Linked DNA regions of Homo sapiens: region 2 is linked to region 1. Evidence: fine-mapped expression QTL. Tissue or cell type: whole blood. Region 1 holds a variant in brackets; the other region holds the start of a gene. All regions are shown on one strand. Distances are between the middles of the regions.

Region 1 (8,097 bases):
TAGTCTGTAACAACATGGAAAATTTGCAAAAGGTTCTCAGCTTGAGCTACAACCCAAAATGAAGTTGTGTGGTTATGCATGTGTGTATTATGTGCAATAAAAAACTAAAAAAGCAAGTTGTTAGGTATAAGGCATGATTTTTAAAAATCCTTAGTGACCAAAACACATTTTAAAGCATTTGACAGTTGCTTAAATTAAGGCATATTAACACGTACAGAAGATTGACCTGAAAGTGAGTTTTTTTAGTTCTACCAGTGTTTTTTTTTTTTTTTTTTTTTTTTCAGAAAAACATCTTGTGTTTGTGTATTTATTCACTTATGGAATACCCATTACGTGCCAAGAACTGTTTGGGTACAGAGAACAGGCTATAAGATACTCTGAGCCCTCCAAGAGCTCACAGGCCGGTGGCCGGGGGGAGGAAGAAAAAAGCAGGTAAGTAAATCTAAAGAACGTGATTATCCTCAGGCCTGGGAGAAATAGCAGATCATGTTGATATTAAAACCTAAGCATTCTAGCTTGCTAACTCACATGCTGATTTGGTGCATTCTTAAAGCTGGGCGTTTCCAGGGTTGCCTTACGATATTTTTACTGCTCCTCTTGGAACTTATACTCCCCAGTGCAACTGGCAACAACACAGATTATGCTCTGAATATAAAGATCAAATGCCCAGTCTGGATCTTCACAAGAGAGGGCGTCCCTTCTGGATGCCTCACTAGGACTCCAGCTCACTGTGGCATCGGGTCCTGTAGTTTACTGTAGCTCTGCAACATGCCACTCCATTCTGTCATTCTTGTCTTTTCTTCCTCACCTCCCCCAGCTTTTGTTCTCTTTGGCTCTTTTGAAAGCCACATTTATGTTCTTCGCATATGGGAAGTATTTTTGGTCAAAATTTAAAACCTGTAATGCGTTCCTTGGCAAAATGATTTGCTAAGCAAGTCTGGCTTTAACTTGAAAGAAAAGCTTTCAGTAGGCAACAAAACAAAAATCTCACAAACCACTCTGGCCACACTGCAATTCTTATTCATCAAAGCTAAATATACTTTACATGCATGTATTAAATAAAACCACCTTTCTCAGTGCAAGGAGGTGTGTATTGGAGTGATTAAAATTTTTATTACTGAGCCACACGTGGTTTCTAATAGAATTATATATAGACATTTATATTTTTTCCTAACACGGTGGCTTTATAGTAGGAACCAGAATGATTTTCTTAGGGATTAACCTCCTAGCTAGGAGGCAGAGAGAACCATGGAGAAACAATATTTGTAGAGTGCCTATTGTCTGAAAGGCATTGTGCTAAGGGCTTTATCCACAGTTCTTTCACTGAATCCTTACCACCAACCCTAGGAGGTAGGTAGCAGAATGATCCCACCACAGAGGGAAAGACTGAGGCTTAGACAGGTTAGCTATGTTGCCCAAGGTCTTTCAGCCCTTCTCCTTTCTATCAAGCTGCTCCTCACTGTTGAGATGCCAAAGGTGTCCTAGTGTTGCCATGTGTTTTTGCCTAATTTCTGTGTGTTTTCCTTTCTCTATAAAGCAGTGAAAACTCAGGTCAGGTTTGGTTTGGATACGAGTTTGCTTGAAAGAATGGCCAGCACCCGGAGCTTGGCAATCAACAACATGAGCACTGCAACTAAAGAGCAGGTGGTGGGCAGGATTCCTCTCCAGCTGTTACAGTGGGGTGATACCTAAAGTTTTGCATCCAGGCAGATCTGGATTTGAATCCTATCTCTGCTACCATCTGGTGACTCTGGGCAAAGTGTCTATCTTTTCTGAAACTCAATTTTCTCAACTATGTCTTTTCTGAAACTCAACTTTCTCAACTATAAGGTGGAGATAATGCTGCCTACCTCACAGTGCTGTAGGAGGATTGGAGAGGACATACAACAAGGACTTGGCAGATAGTTGGTAATTATTCATGCTTTTATGTCTGCCTTTTGTATCCACAGACAACCACCGCATTCACCAGGGTTTTGTGTGAGCAGGTCCAGGCCTGCCCGTTTCTCAGTGAGTGATAATCAGCTTTTGCAGCTGAAGCCTGTTTGACCATAGACCTGACATCTTGCTTAGATCCTGCAATACCCGACTCCTCTTCTGTAGTGATCCCCAATCCTCCTTTATCCCTAGTGCAACCTCTGGCTAGGATCTATGAATGCACTGGGCTTCCTTCTGCTTTTAGGCCAGCTAGATCAGACACGCACACCCACCTTCACTCGGGGCTATGCCTAAGGTCCCTATATCCTTTGGATACTGTAGAATGCTATTGCAGAGCTGACCTTCATAACTGGGGTGCTCACCCTTCTCCATGCTTACTACAGTTACTATTTTGAGCATCTTCTAGGAGCAGAGCCCTGTAATAACACAGGCATGGACCATGCAATTGAGCCGAGTGCTTTATATGCATTATCTCCTTTAGTCCTCATTATAATCCTGTAAAGTAGGTACTATTAACATATTCAGGCCAGGTGCGGTGGCTCACGCCTGTAATCCCAGCACTTTGGGAGGCCGAGGCGGGCGGATCACGAGGTCAGGAGATCGAGACCATCCTGGCTAACATGGTGAAACCCCCGTCTCTACTAAAAATACAAAAAATTAGCTGGGCGTGGTGGCGGGTGCCTGTAGTCCCAGCTACTCGGGAGGCTGAGGCAGGAGAATGGCGTGAACCTGGAAGGTGGAGCTTGCAGTGAGCAGAGATCAAGCCACTGCACTCCAACCTGGGCGAGAGCAAGACTTCGTCTCAAAAAAACAAAAACAAAAACAAAAACAAAAAAACCAACAACAACAACAACAAAAAAAACATATTCATATTCAATACCTATTCATTTCAAAATGAGGAAACTGAGACTTAGGAAGATTAAGGACCTTTCTCCAAGTCACCCATCTAGTAAGAGGTAAGACCAGGCCTAGGATCCCAGGCCAGGGCTCATAGCTGTTACACCATATTGTTTTTCATCCCACCTTCTCCTTCCTCCTTTTCTGACTGATGGGCTCCATGCAGCAGGTACTTTTTTTTTTGTAATTGTAGCATTTCTCATAATGTACTGTCATCAATCTATTTGTCTATGTCTCTCATTAAACAGGGAGGTTCCTGAAGGCAGGGGCCATGTCTTATTTATTCCTGTAGACCAGTGCTTACCACAACATGTGGCACAAAGTACTCCAGAGGATGTTTATTTACTGAATTATATTGGCTTTTTCTTCTCTACCTGCTGTCTTTTGCTGAAGTCTTAGCATGTCCTCTACCCACACTCATTTGAGCTATGACAGCTCTCAAATCAACGTTAGCAGTTACTCTTGGGTCTGAAATTATGTGTGGGTGTTGACATATTTATGTATGTATATGTATGTGTATGTCTGTGTGCGTTTGTGTGTCTGCTGTGGTATCAACTAAAACAGCTAGTTTTCCCAGTGCTTGTCTACATCAAAAGCTTTTAGCCATCAGGTTTCTTCAGTTTCCTTTAATCTGGAAACTTCCCACAGCCTTTCTTTGTCAGTATGACATAGATATTTTTGAAAAATATAGTCCATTAAAAAATAAAATGCTTCCCATGTTGCGTTTGTCTGATGTTTCCTTCTGATTAGATTCAGGCTCTGCATTAAAATGCTCTTTCTTTTCTCATATCTGGAGGCACACAATGTCCATTTGCCCATCTGAAGTTGATTTGGATCACCTAATCAAGATGTTGTCCTATTTCTTCCCTGTATACTTAACGTTCTTTTTCCTCTTGTAACTAATAAGCAAATTCTGAAGAGATATTTTAAGATTATGCATATATCCTGTTATTCTTCAAAATTCCCTCCTGGATCCATCGATGATTCCTGCCTATACCTGTCTTTAATATGATGATTGTGAAATTACAATTCTGCAAATAAATGTGGTATCTGACCCTAGACTAGATCCTGCACAGGAGGGGAAAATGCCATAAAAGACATCGACTATGCATTAGATGTCCTACCTAAAGTAATGTAAGTTTTTCATTTAATAGCTGACATTTAATTGATTAAAAAGTACAGGCCTGGCCGGGCGCAGTGGCTCATGCCTGTAATCTCAGCACTTTGGGAGGCCGAGGCGGAAAGATCACGAGGTCAGGAGATCGAGACCATCCTGGCTAACATGGTGAAACCCTGTCTCTACTAAAAATACAAAAAATTAGCCAGGCGCGGTGGCGGGCGCCTGTAGTCCCAGCTACTCAGGAGGCTGAGGCAGGAGAATGGTGTGAACCTGGGAGGCGGGGTTTGCAGTGAGCCGAGATCGCTCCACTGAACTCCAGCCTGGGCGATAGAGCGAGACTCCGTCTCAAAAAAAAAAAAAAAAAAGTACAGGCCTTCCCTGGATTGAATAGCCCCCAAGGTCTAGTCTCATGTGAGATCCTATGACCCTATGTGAAACTTCTGTTACTATAATGGAGACTGTATGGAAACTGAAACTAAATAATAGCGGTATTTTGAAATGAAGACTCTAATTCTGGTTGCACATGTTTGTTTTCTTTATTGAAAGACAATACAGAAATGATGAAACAATACCTCAAGGGTCTTGAACATGGATCAAATGACA[A/GAA]GTCTTTAATGCAATGGCACAGAAGCTTCTGGCATCAGCACCTGCAAGCCCTGTTCAGTCATCATTCATGATCGCCAAATACTCCTTCTGGTGTTCAACCAGCTTCAGGAATACTTGGTATTTCTTATCATAGTATCTGTGGGAGAAATATAAATATGTTGAATGATCTCAAGACAAAACTGCCACAGGGCTTCCCTGTACATTTAGAAGAATGGAAATATATGTGTGGTGGTGATGCTGACACCTAGATTCTGAATGCTTACAGCATCCTGGGCAATGAATTAGCATGTTTCAGACCTATTATATGTGACCTGGATGAAGTTTTATTATCTCCAATTTAGAAATAAGAACATTTAAACCCCATCTCTTAAAAATACAAAAATTAGCCAGACATGGTGGTGGACGCCTGTAATCCCAGCTACTCAGGAGGCTGAGGCAGGAGAATTGCTTGAACCCGGGGGGCGGAGGTTGCAGTGAACCGTCCCCCGTTCACTGTGAAGTGGTTGAGTTGCACCACTTCGCTCCAGCCTGGGTGAAAGAGCCAGACTCCATCAAAAAAAAAAAAAAAAAAATTCCTAAATGAGAGGCATATACAAAGTAGTATAGATAAAAACTGGCAGAGCTGGAATTCAAACTCATGTCTGTCTGACTTCAAAGCTTCTACTGTATATACAAAAAGGCCGGACTTAATGGAGACTCTTTCACATTGCCAGCTTCAATAAGTATTTCCTATATAACTAGCCCCAGGTTTGATGACTGGCCTAAAATCACAGCCTGACCAAGGACAAAGACTGAACATTTTAATTGCCCTTTTGCAGATTCCACATCTAGGTTTCCCTTGTGACCTGCTTTATCCAGGAGCAAAACCCCATGGAAATGTAGCTAATGCCTTTTCTAGAGCTGTGCTCGCCTTCCAGACATCTCACAGTGGCCGTTGCTCTCCCTGTCCTATCTGGCTGACTCTTTGGGTTAGACCTGTTAGAACTGGTATTGGCCATGAATCAGACAGCAGAACAGCTGAAGCTGCTCTGGCATCATAATCCTGAAAGGAATAATAGGAACCGAGACAAATTATACTTGCAGCCTTGCAACTTTGTCCTTACTCCTCTTGGTTGGGAAGCTGACATGGGGTGAGGGGGTGAAGAAGCCAGTTTAGCATGTCTTGCTCAATTCTGGGGTGCTCTGAAAAGGAGTCCTCATGATGAAATTTTGGTGCAAAGTTGTGCATTGGCAGAGAGAGGTTGTAAGAGTAACCTTGGATACACACAGGGACTTCTACTTGTCACACATAGCTATGTTAGTAGGAGTCCCCTACCCAATATTTATTAGACTGTAAGCATTCTGGTAACGTAGGAGTTGTGACGGGGCCAAGCACAGGGTTAAAAGGCGAACTCCAAAGCCTGGGTTGGAATCTTAATGTGGCCTAACATTAGCTGTGTGACTTTGGATATGTTACTTAAACTATTTCTGCCTAAATTTCTCCATCTGTAAATGGGGATAATTATGGGATCTACTTCAGCAGAGCTGTTGTAGATTAAATGTGGAAATAAATGAAAAGCATTTAGAACAGTACCTGACTCATAATAAGTGATATAAATGCTAGTTACTAAATTTTAGATAATTAATATTTTAATATCATCAATATAGCTATATGTAGGTACTACTAAGACCTACTCTATGAGCATCCAAATTTATTAGTTGTAGAATTATTTTAGGAACAATTTGCTCCTACTAATGATGCTCTGTGACAATATAACGGTAAGGAATTCTTTCACTACATGAGATAGATTTCTTGACTTTAGAATCTCAAAATATCTAGAAGGGAGCTAAGGTGAGCACCCCTTCACACACACTTGATTTACAATGTTAATACTGACAACTTTGCCACAACTTTGTGCACTGGCCTTATTCTTTACATAGGTGGAATCATGCAGTATTTGTCTTTTTGTGGTTATCTTATTTCACTTAGAATAATATCCTCAAGGTTCACTGATGTGTGGCATGTCAGAAATTGCTTCTTTCTAAGGCTGAATAATACTCCATTGTATGCACATATCATTCTTCATTTATATGTTCATCTACTAATGAACACTTAGGTTGCTCTCATGATTTTCGCTATCATGAATAATGTTGCTGTGAACATGAATGTAGAAATATCTCTTCCATACCCTACTTTCAGTTCTTTTGGGTATATACTCAGAAATACAATTCCTGAATCACATGTTAATTCTATTCTTAATTTCTTGAAGAATGGCCATAGTGTTTTCTGCAGCAGCGATACTATGTTACATTCTCACCAACTATGCACAGAGCTTCCAATTTCTCCACATCCTTGCCAACATTTGTTGTTTTCTGTTTTAAAATAGTAGCATCCTAATGTGTGAGGTGGTACCTCACGGTAGTTTTGATTTTCCTAATAGTGCTGTTGAATACCCTATCACGTGCTTACTGGTCATTTATAAATCTTCTTTGGGGAAATATTCATTCAAGTCCTTTGCCCACTTTTGAATTGGGTTGTTTTTGCTTTTTTGTTGTTGTTGAGTTTTAGGAGTTCTTTATACATTTATATATTCTGGATATCAATCCCTTACTGGATGTATGATAAGCAAATGTTTTCTCCCATTCTGTGAGTTGCCTTTTTACTCTGTTGATAGTGTCTTTCAATGCACCAAATTTCTCAAAGCACATTTAAGTGACTCTTCCAGAGCCACATATAAATTTGGACTGAACATAATAATGCAATTTGGGGTCATCCTAAACATTTATTATTAAACTATAGTCACTAAATTACACTCTCCGTGACTGTGAATTTTAAAATCAGCTGAATCCCCTCTCTTCAAAATGTGCCTCAACTCAGTCCCTGCTTCTGTGTGGCAGAGGCCTAAGTAAATGTCGTCCCACATCGTTAACAGTGTGATCTATTAGGCAATGAGATGAGGTTGGCTCAGAAGGAAACTGGCTTCTCCTGTCTCCTTGCAAATCTCTGGGTTGCCTGCAGATGGTGCTAAAGCACCGTGTGTGCCGCCTCCTTCGCAGAGAACAGCTGCCAGCTGCCAGCTCCCAGCAAGCAGCGGAGGACTCTCTGAACACGTGGGGTTTACGGAAAAAACTTAAAAACTTCCCTGAAAAGTCTTGGGAGGGTCAGGGAAGAGATGGAGAAAGACAATCTTTCTAATTTCACAAAAAGAGGGATGCTCCAGCTGCCTCCAGGGAACAGAAACAGGGACAGCAGCCCATAGCTCCTACTGCCAGTGGGAACTCAGATCTCTCCACCTTCCTGCATGGAGCTCCCCTACGCAATGCCTGTACCTTCCACCCTGGCCTTTAGAGAAGGGTTTATATTCGGAGGGTTAGCAGCCTGACTCTATGTGGAGTTAAAGGAAATGAAAAGAAAGTGGATTGCTTTTCCATGAACATTTCCAATTCTGTTAAATACTGATCCTGCTTCAGTGGGATCTGCACATTTGCCTGTTCATCATGTTAAGTGGAATTTGCTTTTAGGTCTTAACCTCGAATACTTCCCTAAAATTATAAAAGCACTT
Region 2 (8,092 bases), 470 kb after region 1:
GTGCGTGCCTGTAATCCCAGCTGCTCGGGAAGCTGAGGCAGGAGAATCGCTTGAACCTGGGAGGTGGAGGTTGCAGTGAGCCGAGATCACGCCACTTCACTCCAGCCTGGGCAACAAGAGCGAAACTCCATCTCAAAAAAAAAAAAAAAAAAAAAAAAGAATGATCACAACAGTTATAGGAAAAACAACAAAATTACAACTTCCATTATTCCTTTAAAAAAATTCTCAGTAAAGTAGGAATACAATGAAACTTCCTAAACCTAATAAAGCATATCTACAAAAGATATACAACTAGCATCATGCATCATACTTAATAATGAAAAAATGAATGCATCTCCCTCAGATCAGGAAGAAGGCAAGATGTCAGCTCTCATCAGTTCTATGCAAAGCAATGGTTCTGGCTAGTGGAATACAGCAAGAAAAATAAAAGGCAATCTCATCGGAAAGGAAGTAAAACTATCTTTATTTACAGATGACAGGATCACCTAAATAGAAAATCTGATGGCATCTACAAAAATGCTCTTAGAAATAATAAGCACATGAGCAAGATTTCAGGATACACAATCAATATACCAGTAACAAGAAAACAACTGGAAAATAAATTTTTAAAATACATAAAATTTTAATATCATTTACAATATCATCAAAAAATAGGAAATACCTACAGATAATCCAACAAAGATGTGTAAGACCTACATATTGAGAGCTACAAAACATTGCCTAGAGAAATAAGGAAGACTTAAATAAATGAACAGATATACTGTGTCCACGGGTCAGAAGACTTGGTATTTCAAATGTCAATTCTCCCCCCAAATTAATGTATACATTCAATACAATTCCAGTTAAAATCTAAATAGGCCTTATTTTGAAATGGACAAAGTGATTATAAAATTCATATGGAAATAGAACCTAGAATAATCAAAACAAATTTTAAAAAGAACAAAATTAAAGGACTTATACTACCTGATTTCAGTACTTATTACAAAGCTGTATTTATAAGACTATGTGGTGTTCGCATTAAAATAGACAAGAGATCAACTGAACAAAATAAAACACAAAATTGGGCCAATGTATACATGGTAAATTGATTTTTGAACAAAGGTGCAAAGGCAATTCAATGAAGATAGGCTTTTCAGCAAACAGTGCTGGAACTGGATAGCCATATGCAAAAAAAAAACTTGATTCCATATTTCATGTCCTATACAAAAATTACCTTAAAATGATCACAGATTTAATATAAAACCAAAAATGACAAAACTTCTTTTAAAAATAGGAAGAATATTTGAGACCTTAGGTTAAGCAAAGATATCTTAGATAAAACACAAAAAGCATGATCCATTATAATTCAGATTGGTAACATTTATTTAACCAAATTATAAATTAGACTTCATCAAAATTAAGAACTCTGCTTTCAAAAGACACTGTTGAGACAAGCATCAAAATAAGAAAATATCTGCAAGTTACACGTGATAAAGAACTTATGATAAGAATAAAGAATTCTCAAAGCTCAATAAAAAGAAAATAAAAGGCTCATTTTTTAAAATGGACGAAAGATTGAATACATACTTTACCTTAGGGGGTATACAAAGAGGAATTAAAAAGGGCACAAGCAATCTTTGGGGTTATTAGGTATGTTCTTTTGATGGTCATGATGGTTTTCATAGATATATGCATATAACAAAACTTCTCCAATTAGACACTCTCAATACGTAGTTTACTGGATGTCAGTTATTCCTCACTAAAGCTGCTACAAAATAGCCCACTCAAGAACACCTACTGATGACTACATTCCTTCTTATCCCTACATTCAGTCAGTAATTAATTTCCATTAGATATGAGCTCTAAATTTCTCTTCAAAGAATCAATATGTCAGTATGTTCAATTCTTTTCTACTTTTAAATTTAACGTCCTCATAAAGCAAGCTTTTTCGATCACCTGCTCCACCCAGACTCACTGACTCATTCCGATTACCTGCTCATTCTCCACCCTGACTCATTCCGATTTCCTGCTCTGCCATAACCATTTTTCCCGCCAAACCACTCACATCGTCACTCTCTTTAAATTAGCCAATTGGAATTAGTTTAGCCTGTGCAGTCTAACCCTAGCCAATAGGGGAACGACACAGCAACAGGGGCCACGTGCGTCAGGCATAAGACCCGCCCCCCCACCCTTGTCCAGGTGTGCGCTCACCATTGCTCCATCTGTGAGGGCGCACCCTTCTATAGAAGTAAATGGCCTTGCTGAGAAGAAAAAAGAAAATTTGATATTCAAGTGCTATTTCTTTTGTGGCACTGAACCTTTATAACATTCCTAACCATTCTATTTTCCTAATCTCTCTCCACTCCCATAACTATTACCCTAACACGTCTCTCACCTATATTACTACAATTACCTCTCTCCGGGCTTCGCCAATCCAATTCATTCTCCAAACTGCAGCCAGAATTAATTTTCTATAACATAAACCTGAGAGTATGTATCACTGTTTGCCCTGGAGATATATTTCAAACTCCCCTAAGATGATTCACCAGACCCTTCCTGACCTGGCCTTCACCCTCCCCAGCCTCCTGTCAGGTGATTTTTTCCAACTTATCCTTTCCTGCACAGCCATCCTAATCAACCATGTGCCATGCTTGTGTAGTTCTGCACATGCTGTTCCCGGTTCATATAATCCCTCGCTCTTTCTCCAGCCCACTCATACTTAGGCTTTGGAACTCGGCTCCAGTATTCCCTTCTGGGAAGTCCTCCCCAAATGGCTTCCCCATGTTGAGCCATTTGCCCTTCTCTCAACTCCTGGGAGTCTTCGGCATACCTTTTCAATGTACTCATCTCACTATCACATAATCTCCCTCATCAAAGTGGATTGAAGCAAACTGGATGAAAGCTTGAAAGCAGAGACCAAGTCTTACTCATCTGCACTTTCCCAGAGACTACCACAGTTCTGGGCCCAAAGTATGTGGACAAGATGAGTGAACAAATGAATACATGAAGAACTGATTTGGATGATCTCTGACACCACCTGGGTTGATTCTATGTCCCTCCATTATAAAAAGGTGGGCGGGTGAGAAGGTAAGTGATCTCTGTAGCACGTTCTGGTAAAATAATCATTTCAAATCCCCCTGGGGGTGGAGGTAGGGGGTTCCACTCTGGCTAGGAGATTAAGGGCAAGATTCATTACCTCAAATTATTTTAAAAACCAGCTGGTAATTGACTGTGATTTAAACTATTTAAATCAATAAGTGAAAGGTTAGGTAAAGGGAACTATTTAAACTAATAAGTGAAAGGTTAGGGAAAGGGAACCAAATTCCAGGAAAAGCCAAGGCCCACAACAAAAACTAACACAGCCTGGAAGGCCCAGCCTCCTCCCAGTAAACTTATTAATTTTATCCAGAAAGACATGGCTCTCCACCCTCTGGGGTTATGCCCTTCTCCCAGCACACATGTTTTGACTTCCAAATCCAGCCAGGCAGGCTCCCAACCTCCCTCCCCCTCAAAATTGATCTCCAGGCCCAGCTGACCCCCTCTGATCTGTTCCCCCAATCATCCTTAATAACAGTGCTCTGGGCCTCCCACTAGGAGGTCCTCCAAGAGCCAGGCCAGTGGCCATCAGGTCAAGAGCCAAGCATGAGGGCCCCATTAACAGGAGACTCCCAGAAGACCAAGCGGCAGTCATCTGGCTGGAAAATCCAGCAAGCAAGTTAAAAAGGAAAAAAATCAGGACATACACGTGGTGGATCATAGAAAAAAAAGAGGAAAAGCAAGCAAAAACTATACAAAGCAAAACTCTACCATTTAAATAACAGCCACAAAATAAAAGACTTTCCCTTCTTTCATTCTGATTTACAAGTCAAAAGAATAAGCACCTCACCCCTCCTGGTCTCATACTTTAAAATTTAACCTAAGGATTAACTGCTTTTCAGACTTTGGTCATGTCATGACTGACTCTTCGGGGAAGAAATTTGTGTTAAGACACAGAAGTGCTTTAGTGGAAAACAGCCCATGATGAGGGAAATTCACCATTTTGCACCTTGTCAATTTTTTTTTTTTTTTTCTGAGACGCTCTGTCCCCCAGGCTGGAGTGCAGTGGCACGATCTCAGCTCACTGCAAGCTCCGCCTCCTGGGTTCACGCTATTCTCCTGCCTCAGCCTCCCGAGAAGCTGGGACTGCAGGCGCCCGCCACCACGCCCGGCTAATTTTTTGTATTTTTAGTAGAGACGGGGGTTTCACCGTGTTAGCCTGGATGGTCTCGATCTCCTGACCTCGTGATCCACCCGCCTTGGCCTCCCAAAGTGCTGGGATTACAGGCGTGAGCCACCGCGCCCGGCCCCTTGTCAATCTTTAAATAAAAAGGAAACGGCTAAAAATGAAAAGATATCCCTAGGCCTTTCTACTCAGGATAACTGTAACCAAACAGCATTATCTCATCTAAACTCAGCTGTGCCTCAAACATTATCACAAGTGCTGGAAGCGTTTAAATCTACAAGCAACACTAGCCTAAAAATGCCTTCGGTAGCCAGACGTGAATTAAAGGCTCCTCAAATGCCAGGAAAATGTCCTACAAGGGTAAGGGGAGGAGAGAAAGAGTACTGAATACAGATAAGTGGGCACTGATCGGAGAGGAAGCAGCACGGGTTCCAGACACCTAATAGGCAGCCTTGGGGATGCAGTCAAGGCCGACCCTTCCCTTCCCTTCCCTTAAGTGGCCGGACGCCTCACCCAGAAGAGGACACAGGGGACTCAACAACGTCTCGGGAACAACGGCCCGGCGGGTGTGAGACTAAGCGGCCAGGAGGAGGAAGGGGAGGAGGAGGCAGGGGAGGAGGAGGCAACGACTGCGGGAAAGGGGAAGGAAGGGCCGGGCCGGGTTGGAGAAGCCTCTTTCTGGGCGTGCGCGCTAAGAGCCTGCGCACCAGCAAAAGCCCCCAGCGCCCACGTGGGACTGAGAGGAGGGTCACTTACAGTACTTGTCCAATCTGAAATTACATTTTAGCTAGACGGATTCTGCACGTAGCCGCGCCGAACCCCACGGCGCCTGAGCAGGGCGGTCCCGGGGCGGCTACAGCCCCGCCTTGCGCGCGATCCCGCCCCCGCCGGCGCGGCCCCTGTAAAGCGCGGCCCCTGTAAAGCGCGGCCCCTGTAAAGCGCGGCCCCTGTAAAGCGCGGCCCCTGTAAAGCGCGGCCCCTGTAAAGCGCGGCCCCTGTAAAGCGCGGCCCCTGTAAAGCGCGGCCTGATTGGCCCTTTGAACCGGGCGTGGGATTGGCCGTCGCCTGCCCACCCCGCGGCTGCAGCGTTCCCTGGGGCCTAGCCAACCGCGGGCAGGGCTGGGCAAGGCGGGAGGAGCGCGGACCCAAGATCGGCTACGCTGCGTCTGCTCAGGCTGCGAGTTCCCGGCTCTGGGGACTCACCTTGCGGAGCTTACCCAGGCGGACTCTCCGCAGCCCCTGATGGGTGTGTGTGTCAGACCGTTTACTAAACACCAGGACTGTTGTAGGCGACTGTAAGAAATAAGAATATTGCATGGTTACAATTCTTGAATGCTTACCTTGTGTCTTGTTCCTTACTCTACAGAAATTTTCTAATCCCGTGGCGAACCCCCGTACTTCAACGTATGACATTCTGTAAATCTACAAAACAGATGGGTCCCTGCCTTTGAGAAGTTTTTACAATTTAGTGGGTACTGGACACGGACCTAATTTAATTCTCACATGCCTTCCCTTTCTAATAAGCTGCATGTTATGTATCCCTATTCTACAGATGTGGGGAATCCGAAATTTTTAGCTTTTACTGGGACACACAGCTAGCAAGCAACTAAAGCGAGAATTCCAACCTGAGCTCCAATCCGAACTATTTTCATAAAAGGCAGGATCCCAGGCTGAGGGAGTTCGAGGTTTGGGAGACAGTTTAGCAGTCGCTGAGTCCAAACATGTTGTTTTCCTAGAAAAGAAAACTGAGATCCAGGAAAGGGAAGTGATTTTCCAAAGACACACCTGTGAAAGGTAATAATTTCACTGAACGGATCTTAAGTGGCAGGTGCACTAAGATTGTCTGCTATCTTCACAACAACCCCGAAGTAAATAAGTGCTCTTATCTTGGTCTTACAGGTGAGGAGAACAGCCCAGTGAGGCTGAGGCCACACAATTAACCCCAGTCTTTGCACTACAACTCTACCAGGGATCCTGGTTTGGCTCATTTTCTTTCTTCTGCACCATGATTGTTCACCTTTTCATTACCAGCAACATACCCAAAGACCTAGCTATAGACTCGTTGGAATCTGTTACTTAGCAGCTGTGTGAATCAAGTGTTCAATAGGAATAATAAGATGTATTCATCTTACCTTTTCAGAACATTATGAAGAACAAATGTGGTAAGACATATGAAAATGCTTTGTAAAGTGTTAGATGCTTAATACACAGAAGACATTGCTTCCAGATCTGTTTCAACGTACCCCAAGAATGGAATAAGTGGAATATGCTGGTTTCATGCACTGTGGCAAGGGGGTCTCATCTTGGCTAGACTTGAATAAGTGGATTTGTTGCCTGGCCTCTGTGGATGGCTCTTTCTCTGGGCTTTTGTGTATTTGATTTTTTATTTGCTCCAGCAGCCGTGTTGAACCATGAAAGGACCTCAGGAATGAAACCCACACACAGCAAAGCAACAAAGTGAAAGAAGCGTGGATTCCTAATGCAGGAGGCACTGAACCAATCAATACCCACTGCCCTCCAGACCTCCACATGAAAGAAAAAAACTGCTGTCCTGTGTAAGACACTTTTATTTTGTGTTTCTATTGTATGAGGTCAAACCTAATAACAGATATATTACACTCTAACAGATACATTACATTGTATAGTAGAATTCTCAGACAGCAACCTTATAAGGTGATAGATGCAGAAACAGGCCCAAAGAGTAAAAATAATTTGTTCAGAGTTTTCCAGCCAAGTGGCGAAGGTGAGATTCTTACCTGGGTTTGTCTGAAACCAATTTTCACTATCTTTTTCAGTTATGATACACTGCCTATTACGAATGAATGAATCCTTTTTTTTTTTTCCATTTACTTCCATTTGATTCATTTATTCCAGGGAGTGACACTTTTTCTGTAAAGGACCGATAGTAAATATTTTAGACTTTGTGAGCAATACAGTCTCTGTTGCAACTACTCAACTTTGTAATGTAAAAGCAGCCATAGACAATAGTAAATGAGTAGGTATGACTATGTTTCAATAAAACTTTACTTACACAAGCAGGCAATGGACAATGTGGCCCATGAGCCTTAGTTTGCCAACCCCTAATGAAATGGGAAAAGTTCCCTTGTCCCCTTCACAGGGCGTGCGATGTGGGTGTGACTCACTTCTTCAGTCCCCACTGCACAAACCTCTAGGGAAGCATACAGACAGGTAGGCTGTGGAGATCTGACCCCACGGCAGTGTCTAGGGGTGACTGTTTACAGCCAAAGCCCCAGTGGGCACATGTAGCAGGGTGCTCTTTTAGTTTAGCCGTCCGTGGGTGGCTTGTGTTAGCCAGCTCAATTAAACCCCTGCCTTATTGCAAGGACAGAGGGCTTTCTGTATCTCGGGGTTCTTGCCTTGGTGTAGCAGAAGAATTGGATCACACGTGGGCTTGGAGAATGATTGCAAGGTTTTATGGAGTGAAAGTAGCTCTCAGCAGGTGGAGGAGCCAAAAGGGAGATGGTTTTCCCCTGGTGTCGGGCCGCTTGGCGGCCCAGGCTCTCCTCCCACTGCCCCAGCCAAACTCCATGTCATTCTGCCAGTTGGTGGCCTGCTGGCGTAAGTGTGTTCTCTCAACGTCCAGCTGCCCGCGTGTTCCTCCGCTGATGTGCTCCTCTCGACGTCCAGCCGCCTGTTTGTCTACCTGCTAGGGTCTCATGGTTTTTATAGCACAGGATGGGGGTGTGGCAGGCCAGGGTTGTCTTGGGAAATGCAATATTTGGGCAGGAAAACAAAATTATGCCTGTCCTCACCTAGGTCCTTGGGCACACATACGCATGTCCCTGCCCCCTTCCCTATCATTTAAAGGGACACACCCTTCACTTCCCAGCACTTCTGTATCACTAATTTATTGTATTCTGATGTTCCATC

The links. PIP is the estimated chance that this variant, and not a neighbour inherited with it, causes the effect.
Region 2: FGGY starts here. The variant in region 1 is fine-mapped to the expression of FGGY in whole blood (TOPMed, PIP above 0.99). The same link has a PIP of 0.9 or more in adrenal gland, amygdala, blood mononuclear cells, esophagus mucosa, lung and nasal epithelium.

Annotation. Positions count from the first base shown.
Region 1 is chr1:59,759,097-59,767,193 of GRCh38, reverse strand. FGGY (FGGY carbohydrate kinase domain containing) reads right to left here. Exons shown (of 16, transcript NM_018291.5): 16 at 4,464-4,691. The coding sequence ends at 4,610. Among named protein-coding and RNA genes, the nearest start is that of MIR4711, 30 kb to the right of the region's middle. RefSeq lists an enhancer at 4,392-4,441. The variant A/GAA (reference allele first, on the strand shown) is at 4,556.
Region 2 is chr1:59,293,773-59,301,864 of GRCh38, reverse strand. FGGY (FGGY carbohydrate kinase domain containing) reads right to left here and starts at 4,771. Exons shown (of 16, transcript NM_018291.5): 1 at 4,715-4,771. FGGY-DT (FGGY divergent transcript) reads left to right here and starts at 5,315. Exons shown (of 2, transcript XR_001738089.2): 1 at 5,315-5,496; 2 at 6,101-8,092. RefSeq lists an enhancer at 2,113-3,312 and silencers at 4,730-4,819, 4,830-5,369.